Regions from separate parts of the Homo sapiens genome. Here region 1 is linked to region 2. A link means that fine-mapping ties the variant in region 2 to the expression of a gene that starts in the linked region. Tissue or cell type: subcutaneous fat. Region 2 holds a variant in brackets; the other region holds the start of a gene. All regions are shown on one strand. Distances are from middle to middle.

Region 1 (8,074 bases), 68 kb after region 2:
GGTGGGGGGCACGGAAGTTCCACAGTCTGAGTCCTCTTGGCATCGAGTGTCTGGAAATGGGCTATGAGCGCTTCCAGGTCTTCCTAGGGCAAGCAAGCAGGCACACGTGAGACTTATTCCCAGGACCCGCCGCGGAGCCACAGCCCGCTCAGCTTTCCTCCAATCAGTGTGATTCGACTGGGCTCAGTCACATCTGTGAATTGCAACATACTGTGCCTGTTTGAAATGCAGAGTTTGACACATTCGAAAGTAACCAGAGCTTGACCTCAAAGGCAGTCTGCTTAAAGGGTAGATGTGTGCACCAAGTATTATCTCCACACCCTTAACGCTCCCTCTGCAAGACCTTCCACTTAGACAAGCCCGTTGTGACTTCACTGCAGACACTCTCAGCACCTCTCATAACCCAGACTCGAGCCGTCGCACCTGCCAGCCTTCCTGTCTGCAGAGCAGTGTCTGACAAGAACTTCCACTTAGACAAGCCCATCGTGACTTCACTGCAGACACCCTCAGCACCTCTCAGAGCCCAGGCCTGGGCCGTCACGCCTGCCTGCCTTCCTGTCTGCTGAGCAGTGTCTGATATATTTCTCTTGCTTATTTGTTTCCTCCACCCCAACAAAATAATAAAATATGAGCTCCACCAGAGCAAGACTTGTGTCTAGTTAAAACACTGCCTGCACAGCAAGAGCTCAGCAAATACCAGCTGCAGTCTATCCAAGTAAGAAGGTCTCAACTTTTACTACCATCGAGAGTGACTCAAGGTACTGATGTGCCAGCACAGAGGGCAGCACTGGAACCCAGTGTTCCCGCCTCAGTCCCAGTGCCCATTTCCCAACATTTACGAGACACTCCCATGCACACCCGAGCCTGGCATTTCAAGTTCCTTCTAGCCTTCAGTGTCCTGCTTGCAACTACACACACCTGCAGACCATCTTCCCTCCCCCACACCCACCTCTCCAACCTCACCTCCCACCTGGCCTCACTCTCCAAGATACACCAGCGTCCTCTCCGTTCCTTCAATGAAAACGCCAGGTTCCCTCAGCCTGCCACGCCCCACCTCGTGCTTCCTTCAGTCTACCTCTCATCTCAGGGTGAATGTCAGCAGGGTACACTGCTTAGTATTCTAAACGATGCAATATTTAAAACACACAAGTTAACAGAACTTTATCCAAGACATTCCTGTATACGGTTCCCAGGGTAAGGAATAAAGTGTCACCCACATGTACCCACCCACACATTCCCTCAAGTAACCACTATCTGGAACTCGATGCTTATTAGTCTCACGCTTTTCTTCAATCTTTTATTACACATGTGTATCCCTAAGCAACATATAGTATTGTTTTACATTTTTAAATGTCATTAAATGGACTGGGCACAGTGGCTCACGCCTGTAATCCCCGAACTTTGGGAGGCCGAGGCAGGTGGATAATTTGAGGTCAGGAGTTCGAGACCAGCCTGACCAACACGGTGAAACCCCGTCTCTACTAAAAAATACAAAAATTAGCCGGCCACAGTGGCGCACACCTGTAGTCCCAAACTACTCGGGAGGCTGAGGCAGGAGAATTGCTTGAGCCTGGGAGGCAGAGGTTGCAATGAGCTGAGATCATGCCACTGCGACACTTGCTCTGGGTGACAGAGCAGGACTCCATCTCAAAAAAAATAAAAAATAAAATGTCATTAAATGGTATCATACTGTATATTCTTTCAACTTGCTTTTTTTGCTCAACGAGGTTAAACAAACAGTTCAAATACTAACGTCTATGTACCGCGAAAGCTTTGCTGCTGCTACTTAGAGCGGTCTTTGACCTTGGCTGAACCTCATCATCATTGGGTGACTGAAGGAGAGCAAGGTGGTAGGGTCTGGGTGACGCCAGTGGCCTAGCCAGTGACAGCCTCTCCAAAGTGACAATAAGCTGAATGCTGAAAAGACGACTCAGACGGAGTATGGTTGGGGTATAGGTAAGACCACAGACACAACTTGCCATGTTTGAGACACTAAAAGACACTGTGGCTGGAGTGAGCCCAGGGAGACAGCTGGAAAGACAGGCAGAGGCCAGGACTAAGTGAAGGTGCGAACCAGGTGACCTGATACATGAGTTCTGTGGGAGCAGAATTCCAAACTGTCCCCAATCCTTCCCCCAATAATTGCCAGGACTGTGAAAGAATGGGATACCACTCTTGTGATTAGGTTGTATTACAGACACAGCTGAATTTAAGAAAGAGATGATCCTCTGTGGGTCTAGCCTAATCAGACGCCCACTTATTTTAAAAGTTTGTTTTGAGGGTTCATTCAGATAACATACAAACCCCAGGCCTGACAGGCTCTCTCTCTTAAGGGAAGCTACTGTTACAATCACCTTAGTATTGGGTACTGGAGGGAGACATGGAGATGAGTAAAAATGACAGGTAACTGGCGGGGCAAGGTGGCTTACGGCTTGTAATCCCAGCACTTTGGGAGGCCGAGGCGAGCGCATCACCTGAGGTCAGGAGTCCCAGACCAGCCTGACCAAAACGGTGAAACCCGGTCTCTATTAAAAATACAAAATTAGCTGGGTGTGGTGGTGCATGCCTGTAATCTCAGCTACTTGGGAGGCTGAGGCAGGAGAACCACTTGAACCTGGGAGGCGGAGGTGCAGTGAGCTGAGATCGCACCATTGCACTCCACCCTGGGCAACAAGAGTGAAACTCCTTCAAAAAAAAAAAAAAAAAAAAAAAAAAAAAGCAGAAAGCAGCTAACAGCTGGTTACTGAGTGCTTACTTTCTGCCAAGCACCATTCTGAAGATACCACACAGATGAACTGACTTCCTGTGCCACAACCCTAGCCAGCAGGTCATGCCACTGCAGCCCAGCCTAGGTGACAGAGCAAGACTCTGTCAAAAAAAAAAAAAAAAAAAAGAAAGAGCCTAAGAGGAGTGTGAGGGAAAAGTCCAACTCCATTATTTAAGAGATGAGGACATGGAGAGATCAATGACTTAGGAAGAAAAGGGACAAAGGACTGTGGTCAAGAGCTCCTGATTCAGGACATCTGGTCACATCCCAGTTCCATACCACTTCATGGTTCACCTGTTGGTCTTCCTGTCAAATGGGAATACCAGTGCTACGGAACTGACCTGCTCGTGAGGAGTAAAGCCCAGGGAGCTGTGCCTGGCGCACGGCAGGCCATAAAACTGGCCCCGGTTAGGGAATCCATGAGCAGCAGCCGCAGAACACTCAACCCCAAGGTCAGGACGGATCCTCCTGCAGACCCCGGGCTGAGGACCAGAGGGAAGGAGACAACCGTGATGGCCGCCATCAGCTGCTACGGGATACCCCGTGGCTCCAGTGCCTTCTTCACTTAACCATCTGCTGCTCACTGCTCAGGGCTGCTGTGATGATTATTTGCCCTCTTTTGAAAGAAAAGTAAGGTTCAGAAAAGTTAAGAGTCTTACTCCCAGACCACACATCATGCAGAGGCAGCCCCCGGCTCAACCTCAGGTCTTCCTGTGCCAAACCCCTCCCTCTTCTCACCACCCAGCCTCCCTTCAGAGGGAGGGTGGAGGGAGAAGGGAGGAGGGGGAGGAAACGCAGAAAAACGCCCGTGACACCACACTAAGAAAAGCAAGCACGTTAAAGGGGGCAGCTCCGAGAAGCGGACAGACACACGTGGAGACTCAGGAGGGGGCGGGCCCCGTCTGGGCTGCCCGGACGCGGCGCCGGGGCAGTTCCTACGGCCTCCAGCTCTCCCGCAGGGCCGGCGCGGCTCCCACGGCCGACCCGTAACCCCGGGGGGCGCAGGGAGTCGGCCGAGGCTGCACGGCCGCGACGTCGGGCCGCTAAGCCCGGTCTGACCCGCTCACCTCCTCCTTCCGCGAGCGCTTAGACACCTTCTTCTCCATCTTGGCGGCCGTCTTCTCCGCGCCGCGGCCCTTCTTCTCCTTCTTGCCCTTCTTGCCCATCTTGCCGGGTCCCAAGCCGCGACGGGACACCAGGAAAGAAAACGGCCCGCGCTCTCCGCTCGGAAACAGGTGCTCGTGGGGCGGAGCTCGGCGCACAGAAATGGAGTCACTTCCGGCCCCGAGTTCGAGCCGCTTCCGGGTAGAGGTGCGGCTGGGCCCTTTACGAGGTTCGGTCTTGGAGCTCCGTCTTCGGCAGCGGGCTCGGGGGCCTCGGACTCTGCATAAGGCCCCGGAAAAGATGACCGGCCCCGGGCTGGGCGCGGTGGCTCATGCCTGTAACCCTGGAGCTTTGGGAGGCCTTGGCGGGCGGATCGCTTGAGTCCAGGAGTTCGAGATCAGCCTGGGCAACAAAGCGAGACACCACCCCCCACCCCCAGTCGCTACAGAAGAAAAAAAAAAAAATTAACCGGGCGTGGTGTCTCGCGCCCAGTGGTCCTAGCTCCTCGGGAAGGTGAGGCGGGAAGATCGCTTGAGTCAAGGAGTTCCAGGCAGCAATGCGCCCCTGCACCCCAACCTGGGCGACAGAGCGAGATCCTGTTTCAAAAAACAAAAAAGATGGCAGCCCCGGCCTGACATACCCCGGCCATGCTCGCCAATTCTCACGCCCTGTGCCCCCACCTAGCCTGTCCCCGTGTCCTAGGAGACGTGCCCTCTGAGTTTTATTTTTTATTTCTATTTTTTTGAGGCAGGGTCTTGCTCTGTCGCCCAGGCTGGAGTGCGGTAGCGCGATCTCGGCTCGCTGTAACCTCCGCCTCTGGAGTAGCTGGGACCACAGGAGCCCACCACGCCCGGCTCATTTTCTCTTGAGTTTTCCGGGGTGCACGTGCCCCCCGTTAAGGCACATTGCTTCGCCCTGGGTAGAACTAAGTGGGCGACTCTTGGGCTAGCCCCATTTTTTCCCCTCAGACCAAACAAATGAGTGCTTTTTTCCCAGAAAAAAAATTTCACACAGTTATAAGATTTTGCAGATCCTGAGTAAGACAGTCCCTGCCGGGCGCGGTGGCTCACGCCTGTAATCCCAGCACTTTGGGAGGCCGAGGTGAGTGGATCACGAGGTCAGGAGTTCGAGACCAGCCTAGCCAACATGGTGAAACCCCCGTCTCTACTAAAACTACAAAAATTAGCCAGGCGTGGTGGTGGGCACCTGTAATCCCAGCTACTTGGGAGGCTGAGGCAGGAGAATTGCTTGAACCCAGGGGGCAGAGGTTGCAATGAGCTGAGATCAAGCCACTTCACTCCAGCTTGGGCAAAAGAGCAAAATTCCATCTTAAAAAAAAAAAAAAATGGGGGGGCCCTTCCACCTTCCCATTTAAAATGTGCCAGACACTGTTAGGTACTAAGGGCATGTCCTCAAATGTCCTAACATGGAGGACTTTTGTTTCTTCATAGGTAGGCTAGAGCTAATGATAGCACCCTGAAAGGGTACTCAATTTGTGGAGCCTGAGAAATAAAGATAGGTAATATCCAAATGCCTGCTAGGAAATTGTACTCTAGGATTTGCCTCAAATTACGTAAGAAATGGCAAAATCATCTGCAGTGCATGGAATGTTATGATTTGAAAGAGCAGAGTAAAAATGCTTATCACTACTTAGAAGATGTCATCTTTGGATGGGTAATCAAGGAATAAGGCAAATTAAGGACAAGGACAAGCCAAAATTTGGCAAAGGGAAAGCATAAATCAGGAAATAATCTAGTTTATTACTTTGTGTGTGAGTCAGCCTTTAAAAGTTCTCTTAGGCCAGGCGTGGTGGTTCATTCCTGTAATCCCAGCACTTTGGGAGGCTGAAGCGGGCTGATCACGAGGTCAGGAGTTCAAGACCAGCCTGGCCAATATGGTGAAACCCTGTCTCCACTAAAAATACAAAAAAAAAAAAAAAAATTAGCCAGGTGTGGTGGCACCCACCTGTAGTCCCAACTATTCAGGAGGCTGAGGCAAAAGAATCATTTGAACCTAGGCGGCAGAGGTTGCAGTGAGCGGAGATTGCACCACTGCACTCCAGCCTGGGCGACAAAGCAAGACTCCATCTCAAAAAAAAAAAAAAAAAAAGATGTTATCTTAGATCCAGCCAGGTGTGATGGCTCACGCCTGTAATCCTAGCACTTTGAGAGGCAGAGGCAGGCAGATCACCTGAGGTCAGGAGTTTGAGACCAGCCTGATCAACATGGTGAAACCCCATCTCCACTAAAAATACAAAATTAGACAGGCATGGTGGTGCGCACCTGTAATCCCAGCTACTCGGGAGGCTGAGTCAGGAGAATGGCTTGAGCCTGGGAGACAGAGGTTGCAGTGAGCCGAGACTGAACCACTGCACTCCAGCCTGGGCAACAGAGCTAGACTCCGTCTCAAAAAAAAAAAAAAAAAGAAGAAGTTAACTCGGCCAGGCGTAGTGGCTCACATCTGTAATCCCAGCACTTTGGGAGGCCAAGGTGGGCAGATCACGAGGTCAGGAGTTCAAAACCAGCCTGGCCAACATGGTGAAACCCCGTCTCTACAAAAATACAAAAAAATTAGCCAGGTGTGGTGGTGTGCACCTTTAATCCCAGCTACTCAGGAGGCTGAGGTAGGAGAATTGCTTGAACCGGGAGGAAAGGTTGCGGTGAGCCCAGATCACGCCATTGCACTCCAGCCTGGGCAGCAAAAGCGAAACTCTGTCTCAAAAACAAAAAAAGTTACCTTAGATCCAATCAATGACTAGTCACTGAGCAGCTGAGGAGGAATGATTTTCCAACCCACTCCAAGCCTTATCCATAAACCTAGCTCTTTAAGAAGAAAAATGAAATTTGGGGAAATAATGAGAAGAAAAGATAGCACTGGTTGAAGACCACCATGGTCTCCAGCACTGCTTGTAGGAAACCTATGTGGTGGTAGAAAAAAAAAACCGGTTAGGAGCTGAGCAGAAAGGAGCTGGAGAATTTCACAGAAACCCAGCCTGGGCATCCAGGCATGTTTATCTTCCATGACGAACTACAAAAGGCTAAATCCTCACTATTGCCCTCGGGAAATAGTTCTGTCCCCTCTAGTGTACTATGACTTTAAGAACATACGTAATCCTTTAATATTTTTCTAAAAATCCTGGGTAAACCTGAGGCAATGCACTTGAAGCCAAAAGGCTCTTCATTCACAGCACATCTGGCTGCAGTACATTACAGTGGTGCCCACTTCAGGCCGGAGACAGGGAGAGCGTATGACCTATTGAAGATTTAGGAGGATCTGGTGGATGCGGGGTTTAATACTTTTATTATCTGAAAGAAGCTTGAAGCTAAATTAGAAGGCTCTTGGATTATAGGTGTCATGGTGATTTACGTGAGACTGAAATTCTCATACTGAGAAAGACGGAATAGAACATCTAAAATGAGATCAGATCCTAAAATAGTCAAAAGATTAAGTACAAGGCTCTATTTTAGTAAAATTCACATTGTTGAAACTTTCATGGATTATCTTTAATCTGTCGCTGACTTTTAGAGTGTATCTTTTGTGTGATCAGGCGCCCTCTGCTGCCTTCAAGTTGAAGTGCAGAAGAGAAAAAAAATCTATTAATAATAGATTAAATTTTAGGAAAATATGCTAACTTCTAATTATCCTCACCACAAGTAATCAATGTGATTGGAAGGTTCTGCCAAGTGTGGTATGGATTACGTGGCTCTTTGCACGTTTCCCAGCAGGAAAGTGGGAATAATGAACTAGTTCACCTATTACACAGGATTCTTGGGAAAATCAAGTGAAACAATAATAAAGCTTAGGAAAGAGGCCAGGCGCGGTGGCTCACGCCTGTAATCCCAGCACTTTGGGAGGCTGAGGCGGGTGGATCACGAGGTCAGGAGATCAAGACCATCCTGGCTAACACGGTGAAACCCCGTCTCTACTAAAAATACAAAAAATTAGCCGGGCGCGGTGGCGGGCGCCTGTAGTCCCAGTACTCGGGAAGCTGAGGCAGGAGAATGGCGTGAACCCGGGAGGCGGAGCTTGCAGTGAGCCAAGATCGCACCATTGCACTCCAGCCTGGGCGACAGAGTGAGACTCCGTCTCAAAAAATAAAAATTAAAAATAAATAAAATAAAGCTTAGGGAAGTAAAAAAGCAAAACACAAAGGCTTTTTTTTTTTTTTTTTGAGACAGAGTCTCACTCTGTCACCCAGGCTGG
Region 2 (8,074 bases):
ATCCCCAGTGTGAGGTGAGGCGCTCGGGCCTGGGAGCTGATGCCCAGCATACAGTCGGGGGTGCCCCTGCCAGGTGTGGTGCAGAGCACGGCGGGGGTGTGTGAGACCTGAGGATAGCGTCTGGATGTTTCTCTCACGTTAACGGGAATGAGATAGGCTCATTGGCTGCTCATCCCCAAATCCAAATGGAAAACCGCCATTCGGGCCAGGCAGAGGCAAGTACTCCCACCCGTTGCCGCTGCCGTGTTGAGCCCACCGTGCCGAGTGGTGTTGGCAGGAGCCTCCCGAGGAAGCTGTGCCAACGCAGGAGTGGTCAGAGCCTGTCCAGGCCACAGACGGGGCTACGATGAGCACTGCTGCCCAGGGCATGTTGGGGGCAGCTCCTGGAGACCACAGGGAGGGGAGGTGGGCACCCAGGTGTGGGCAGAACTGGACCAGGAGGAGGAGGGGCAGCAGCTTGCTCAAGGCACAGGGCCTCAGCCACAGGGTGGCGGGCTGGGAAGGGGCGAGGGTGTGGTGGGTTCTGAGTGCCCCATGCAACGGCTGTTTTGGGCCACGTGCTCAAGCAGGCACCCAGGGAAGACCAGCCTAGGTGCTGGCGTGAGGCCCTTCAACATCAGCTACGATGCTGCTTCATCAGGAGCACAGCCTGGGGAAAGAATGAAACTGACCCAGGAGACAAAAGGGTCCCCGGGCCAGACGGTCAAGCAGGAGGCTGCTTCGCTGCCGCGGGATGTGGCATCCAGGCTAGGCAAGGGGACGGCAGGCTGCCATCCCCAGAGGGAGTTCTCCGGGCAAGGCCGTGACCCCACTGGGGCTCTGAGTTTGCATCCTTCCTGTGTGTCAAGAGCAGAGCCGGCCACTGCCAGCCCATAGCTCCCATGGTGCGGCCCTGGAGAGCTGACTTCATGCGGGATGTCTGCTGTTCTTTGCGTAGCTTTACTGAGACAGAAAGCGTGTACTGTTCACTTCAGGTGGCCACAGTGTACAAGTCAGGGATTTTAGTGTATTCCCAGTTATACAGCCATCACCCCCAATTCTATCTAGATCAGCTCCATCACCTTAAACCTCAGGGCCATTGAGCAGGCACTTGCTGTCCCCTCCTCCCCCAGCTCCCGGACTCTGCTTTCTGCCTGGTGCCCAGCTTCTCACGCAGCATGCACTGCTCCTGCGCTTTCTCTGTGGCAGCCGCGGTTGCACGGCCCATGTCTTCCCCGCTGTGTGTTCATCCTCCACTGGACAGCTGGCTCTGCTTCCACTCCGTGGCTGTTGTGAATCCTGCTGCCGGGAGTGTGTGCACACACAAGGTTTTGAGTGGAGGCTTGACTTTGCCCTCTTAGATTTAGGCCTGGGAGTGGAACTGCTGGGTCCCCGGTGTTCTCATCAATTCTCTTCCAGTCTCTGGGAGAGGAGCCAGCAGCAGCTGCTTCGTTGTGGGTGGGGGGAAGGGGGAGGCCCGTTGTTCGGGCTCCCCTCCTTAATGCAGGCCTGAGCAGCCCTCACCTGGTGCCACATGAGCTACTCAGTCTTAACAGACCACCCCATCATGTCTTTGAAATTTGACCAGAGGCCAGACTTGGGGGCTTAAAGGAGTCCATGGAAAACCAGTCTGTTAACAGGGAGGGGGAGGAGAGTAGCCATCCCTGAGGAATGTGCATCCTGGGACCTTCAGGACAAGCCCTGGTCCATCTGTGTCGCACAGCAGCAGGATGTCTGCGTGGTAGGAAGTGGAGGGCTCCGGGGGCTCTGAACAGCTCCTTACCACAGTGGGGTCTACATCTCCTTCCAGGTGGCTGCGAGATGCAGGGCGTGGTGGGGGTGGGGAGAGGCAGGGGCAAGTGTCCTCTGGAAGCAGACTGTGGGCAAGACTGGAGTGGGTGTCCCAGCCATTCCTGGGCTGGGGCCACCGTCCAGGAGGCGTCCATTCCCTGTGCAGCAGGTACTGTATCTGTAGGGCAGCACCCACCCCTGCCGTCCTGGGAGCTTCCCAGAGGGGCCACGCTCCCTCTCCCCCTGCCTGGTGTGAGCAGAACACAGCAGAGTGCAGGACTGCAAGAATCACTGCAGAAGGGCGCCCCCGGAAAAGGCTCTGTTGTGAGACGTGTCCTACCTGGCCCCGGCAAGCACAGGGAAGGTGGCAGCTTGGTCCGAGTGCCCAGGCTGTGCGGCTGAAGGGGGAGTCTGGCACTTGGGGCTCCGGCGGAGGCTGAGGACTTGTGAGCCACTTCAGGGAGGTGGTGGCAGCAGCATTCAGGACCATAACCTAAATCCAAGGCAGCTCGCAATTGGACACAGTCCTCCAGAGCCAGTTGGCGTGAGGGGTTTGTTGAGGAAGGTGTGGTGAGGGGGGGTTTTGTTGAGGACACTGTGCTCACGGACTTTGGGAGTCCTCTGAGTTCCAGGGCCTCTCTGCTGGGCTGCATCTGACACTGGCCATGGCAGCCATGCGGGCCCTTCTGAGATTCTGAGGTCCCAGTTCCACAGGGCAGGAGAAGCCTGCTGACTGGCACAAAGGCCACACGCACCGAGACGTTTGCTTGCAGGGAGGCCTGGGTGGTTCTCTCCAAGGGGACCCTGGGAGAGCTGGTACTCAGGGTGTCGGGGCCACAAGGGAATTCCAAGGGAATTCCAGGACCAGCAACCTCAGACGTACAGGCAGCTGGGGCTTCTCTCCCGCGTCTGGACTTCACGGAGCTCAGGTTCTGGTGGGCCTTTGGTGTCCAAGCGTTTCTAACATCCTCCCGTACGCTTCCACCCCCGAGGGTCTGCTAGCTTGGTGAAAAGACGTGGGTGGGAGGCGTGGTGGCCCAGGCAGAGCCCCCCGCAGCTGTCGCTCACCTCTTCCCCTCGCTCTCTTCCAGGGCTCAGCGCCTATCCTGGTGGTCATGGTGATCTTGCTCAACATCGGAGTCGCCATTCTGTTTATTAACTTTTTCATCTGATGAGATGTCGCGGTAGCAAAAATAGAGAAAGGGTAGAAAAAAGGGACATTAAAATTAAAAGCAAAACCACAAGAAGGGAAAGACCGCAACTCGGACAGCCCAGCGACTTCCAAGTCCTCTCACAGAAGAACCACACGATTGGGTATCACTCACAGTTTGCCTTTTTTTCTGGGTAATGTTTTTTGGATTTTAGCCAAAATTCTTTGCTTGTATAACACTCTGCTGTGTGGCATGGCAGAAGGAGGCCAGCACGCAGCCCCTCCAGCTCCACGTGGAGACAGAAGGGATCCCGGCACATCAGTGGTAACAGCGGACGTTGTCCTCGTGGTCACACGTCCCGTCTTGGGTGTGGATGGAGGGCAGCCCGGGGCAGAGCCTCAGCCCCGCGGCCCCTGAGTGGCAGGGCTGACTCCCGTCGACACGAGCTTAGAAAGTGGATTCACTGCTTTCTCTGTCTAGAACAGACGGGTGACAAGTATGGGCAGGAGGCATGGGGCAGGGTGGCCCACCCCAGTGGGCAGTAGCCTGGCCTTTTTCTGTGTGAGATCTGTGCTGCACACCTGAGGGAGGGGGAGGGATCGGCCACCTCCTCCCTGTGAGACGGATGCAGGTCCTTCCCTCTTCTCGGCACTGCCCCCGGCCTTCCATGAGAAGCCGACTCCCCACACCGAGTTTTAAAGCAAAGCCCTTTTCTTCTGCTGCCCACTCACTGTGGGTCCCATTCGGCTGTTTCCCCCACCAGACCCCAGGGAAGCCGGGGCCCACTCCGATCCGCCTGGGCTCAGCTAAGCACGGAAGCCAAGGGGGCTGTGCCGTGGAGCTGGGCTCGCGCCGGGGCTCTGGGTGTGTGCGCTTGGCGTGCAGGGTGGACGCGTGGGGTTCCGTGTCCCCAGCAGTGAGGGCCCTAGAGGACGCCTTCTCCCATGGTTACTGATCTCCACGGGTTTTCACATCTCTGTACTGTGCCTGCCTCAACTTCCCCTAACAGATATGCATATTCCTTCCAGATGCCTCAGTGCTACACCACAGTGGGCCTGGTCCCAGGACAGGAATGCGGTTCAAACCCAGTGGCTTGAAACTTCCTGAGAAACTGTAGCATATCCAGCCCCCTAAAATGTACAATGTAACTTGTTCAGTCCAACAAAAACAGGTTCCTTATGTTTCTGCCTTCTCCACCAGGGTCGCTCCATCACCCAAACAAAAGAACAAGGTTTGCCAGGATGTCCGAGTGCCCCCTGGCCCTGGCTCTCGTGTGCATGGACGTGCCTGAGGGGTCCGGGCACGGCCATACGCAGGACCCCTGTGCCCGGGGAGGCGCTGCAGGGATTCCCCATCCGGTCGTCTTGGGGCCAGCCCGTCTTATGGACTCTGCCTTGCTTTGCTTATGTTTAGCTGTTTCTCTGCTACCTTTCGAGCAGACTTCTTTACTACACTGCACTGGATTGCTATATTTTTAACCAGAAATAAACTAAAGATTAGAGCATGTTCCAGTTAAATTCAGTTTTATTGTTTTCCGTTACATGTTCACTCCCTGTTCCTTCTCGCCGCCTGGTCTGGTGGGGGCATAGGAGAGGGAGGGAGGACTGAAGGTCATACATTTCTGATAATGTCGCTTTCTAAAGGGCTGTGACATTTTTGTACATCTTTTCCATCTTTTAGTAGCAAGTGGTTGCTGCAGACCAGAAGTGAACCAAATAAAGACTCCTGCTCTGTGCAGCTCTCAGACTCCTGCTCTGTGCAGCTCTCACAAAGATCACAGCTGCTTTTGTACATTCCAGTAACTGCATGACACAAAACGGTACCTGTGAGCAGGAAACACATTCACACCATGAGACATGCACA[G/C]AGGCAGGTGTCCCTGAGCGAAGTTGTGCAGAGATCTAGGCCTAGGGGCAGTCAGCTCCTGCCGCAACACAACCTAGAAAACCAAGGCGAGAACGGCCCCTTGCCTTCCAGCAGCGAGGGCAGAGGGCAAAGCCACTTCCCTGTGAATTCCAGGAGGATTCAACCAAGGCTAAAATGCCCCGGGTCTGAGAGAATCGAATCTTTAATTGGTTTCCACATGGGGTGATTAAGCAGAAGGCTGCTTCCCGCCTGTCCGGAGCCTCGGCCTTCCCTGACAGGCACGCAGTCCCTCCGCCCAGGCCCAGGGGACCTGCTTCCCTGCACACAGTCGGGCAGGGCAGGACAGCATGTGCCCGGCTGGCTGCTGCTGCATGGAGAATTTGACGAGTTTTCATTAACCCGAGAGCAGCCTGGTGAGAGCCATTTTCCGCCCCAATAGCTTCTTCATGTTTCACCTGTGCACCCGAGGCCAGGAGGAAGTGGTGGCATCCCCTGCAGACAGCAGCGCGGTCTGCGGGGGGTGGGTGTGGACAGCCCATGGGCCAGGCTGGCGTCTCCCCACCCTTACAAGCCTGCAGACAGGTCCACCTCTGGCCCAGGAACAGATGAGCCCCGCCCTGGAAGAGCTGGAGAAGACCCTCTGCCCCGGGGCCTCTGGTGAAACTGTCTGTGCCCACGGCTGGCCTGTTTTACTTACCAGCCTCTGCACACTGGATGGACTGGTGCTTTCTGAAGTTCAGTAGCGCACAGAATGTGCCTGGATAATTTCGGGAACTGAAACAGTCTCTTTATCCATTCTTTTGGATCTAGAACCATTACCTCACAGGATTCCCAAAGATACAGATCAGGCATGCAATGCCTGAGCCGAGCTAACTGACAAGACAGTGGTGATGTAGAAAAGCAGGGCAGGGCCGGGCGCGGTGGCTCATGCCTGTAATCCCAGCACTTTGGGAGGCCAAGGCAGGTGGATCACCTGAGGTCAGGAGCTCGAGGCCAGCCTGACCAACATAGTGAAACCCCATCTCTACTAAAAAAAAAATACAAAAATTAGCCAGGCGTGGTGGCAGGTGCCTGTAATCCCAGCTACTGAGGAGGCTGAGGCAGGAGAATCGCTTGAACCCGGGAGGCAGAGGTTGCAGTGAGCAGAGATCGCGCCACTGCACTCCAGCCTGGACGACAGAGTGAGTCTGTCTCAAAAACAAGATACACACTGTAGAAAGACGGGCCCTCCCCTGCATTCACTCAGCTCGCTCCCCTGTAAGGCCCCAAGCCAGGCCATGGGCCAGCGGTCCCCGGGACGTCCATACTCCAGGCTCTAACCACACTTGCTCCTTTTCACTTGTAGAAGCACATGGCCACCGCGTCTCACGGAGGGCCATCAGTCACCCCCAAGGCGCTGCAGACCTAAAGTGTGGAGAACTCGAGGGAAATGAAATGTTTTTCATACTTTTGCAGTTCAGGTTCTTGGTTGTCCTTTACTCCTTCCCCGGGAGGTTTTATCGACAGCTGGACCCGTCGGACTGAAGAGACCCTGAGGCCTGTGGTGGTCCCCAAGCTGCTGGCGCTCCTGGGCCGTGTGCGGGTGGCAACTCCCCTCACAGTCTTCATGGGACAGTGCGGATTTCACCTCATACGTGCGACAGACGCTCTGCAGGAGACAGCGGAAGGACCGTCTCCCTCCTCTAGGTCATGCTCACTTTCTCTGACTCTTCCGAAGTTTGATCTGACTGTTCTTGCCTTTGGTCTTGGAAACTTGACATCAAGGTGCCTATTAGATTTTCAGTCGTCGCCTTCCATAGCTGCAGGTGCTGTGACTGTTTCTGCCTTCAGCCGGCCGACAGCACCGGGCGCAACAAGCTTCAGGACATCATGATGCCGCCCTCCTGCAGTACCTTTAACCTCGCCCGGGCCAGGGTCTGCCTCCAGCCCAGGACCAAGACCCCGATTCCAGATAAGGCGGAGGGAGGAGGGCAGGGGGTAGAGGGAGGAGGGCAGAGGGTGGAGGGAGGAGGGAGGAAAGAGGGTGGAGGGAGGAGGGCAGAAGAAGAGGGCAGAGGGAAGAGGGTAGAAGGAAGAGGGTGGAGGGAGGAGAGAAGAGGTGGAGGGAGGAAACAGGGTGGAGGGAGGAGGGAGAACGCTGGAGGGCAGAGGGAGGAGGGCAGAGGGCGGAGGGAGGAGGTTGGAGGGCGGAGGGAGGAGGTTGGAGGGCGGAGGGAGGAGGTTGGAGGGCGGAGGGGAGGAGGATGCAGGGCAGAGGGAGGAGATTGGAGGGCGGAGGGAGGAGGTTGGAGGGCAGAGGGGAGGAGGTTGCAGGGCAGAGGGAGGAGGTTGGAGGGCGGAGGGAGGAGGTTGGAGGGTGGAGGGAGGAGGTTGGAGGGCGGAGGGAGGAAGCTGGAGGGCGGAAGGAGTCAGTCAACTCAGGCACCTGGTTGGCTTCTCTCGCGCCCAGGCCGCGTGTCAGGTGAGGCAGTCGGTACGCAGAAACTGAGGAAGCGACTGTCCCCAGGTGCCAAGGAGGTTGCTGGCTCAGCCTTCAAAACAAGCAAGGAAGAGTGCAGCTGCATTTGTTGAAAAAAAGCCAGGCTGTATTTTCACCATGTGCCCCCTGCCTTGAAAATGAACTACGGAATGCACAGCGCGTGGGGGGTGGGTGCTGGAAAGGGACAGAACAAGGGTCCGTGGCAACCACAAAGCACCTGCAGGCCAGCGCTTCCCGATGAGCAGAGGCGGGGGCTGGCACCTGGCGCTGGCTGCAGACGGGAAGTCAACGCCACCAAAGCAGAGGACCTCAGCCACCCAGGTTAGCAAGAGGGTAGCAGGGCGCTCAGGAACAGGTGAAGCCATACTGTGGAGAGAAGCTGAATGCTCCTCCCAAGCTTCAGCCCACCCATTAGGAACAAATGCTCTTTAAGTCTGTTTCTTCATGAAACCCAAAGTGGAAGTGCCTGAGCTGTGAATGCGGCCACAGCGTTCATGCCAGCTTGTTCCCAAGCCTAGGAGAAGCAAGCAGCCCCGTGACGGGCACAGGCCACAGTGTGGGCGTGAGCTCACCCCATGTGTAGCCGGGTGCTGGGCCCAGGCCGCTGGGTTTCTGGGGTCGGCAGAGTGGGCCAGGCAACAACCTCACATGCCTACCTCACTGCCACTCGTCCGCCTCGTCCACTCCTGGCATTTGGGATAAACATCCTGTCTCAGACACACCCTTCTCGTGCGCCCATGCCACCTGCTCAGGCCTATGCCGCCCGCCCGTCCTCCCAAGCGTGCACACCCGTCCGCCATCCTTCTCCCGT

What was found. PIP is the estimated chance that this variant, and not a neighbour inherited with it, causes the effect.
Region 1: KLHDC4 starts here. The variant in region 2 is fine-mapped to the expression of KLHDC4 in subcutaneous fat (GTEx, PIP 0.91).

The regions. Positions count from the first base shown.
Region 1 is chr16:87,761,958-87,770,031 of GRCh38, forward strand. KLHDC4 (kelch domain containing 4) reads right to left here and starts at 4,029. Exons shown (of 12, transcript NM_017566.4): 1 at 3,835-4,029; 2 at 1-83. The coding sequence starts at 3,933. LOC105371399 (a long non-coding RNA gene) reads left to right here and starts at 4,084. Exons shown (of 3, transcript XR_933871.3): 1 at 4,084-4,384. It overlaps LOC102724467 (a long non-coding RNA gene), which reads right to left. Exons shown (of 4, transcript NR_120309.1): 4 at 4,374-4,467. RefSeq lists enhancers at 415-484, 3,317-3,941, 3,925-3,984, 4,065-4,124.
Region 2 is chr16:87,693,719-87,701,792 of GRCh38, forward strand. It overlaps JPH3 (junctophilin 3), which reads left to right. Exons shown (of 5, transcript NM_020655.4): 5 at 2,862-4,438. The coding sequence ends at 2,942. It overlaps LOC100129215 (a long non-coding RNA gene), which reads right to left and starts at 2,423. Exons shown (of 1, transcript XR_109334.3): 1 at 919-2,423. It also overlaps a transcript of KLHDC4 not described here. RefSeq lists enhancers at 4,907-4,966, 7,993-8,042. The variant G/C (reference allele first, on the strand shown) is at 4,785.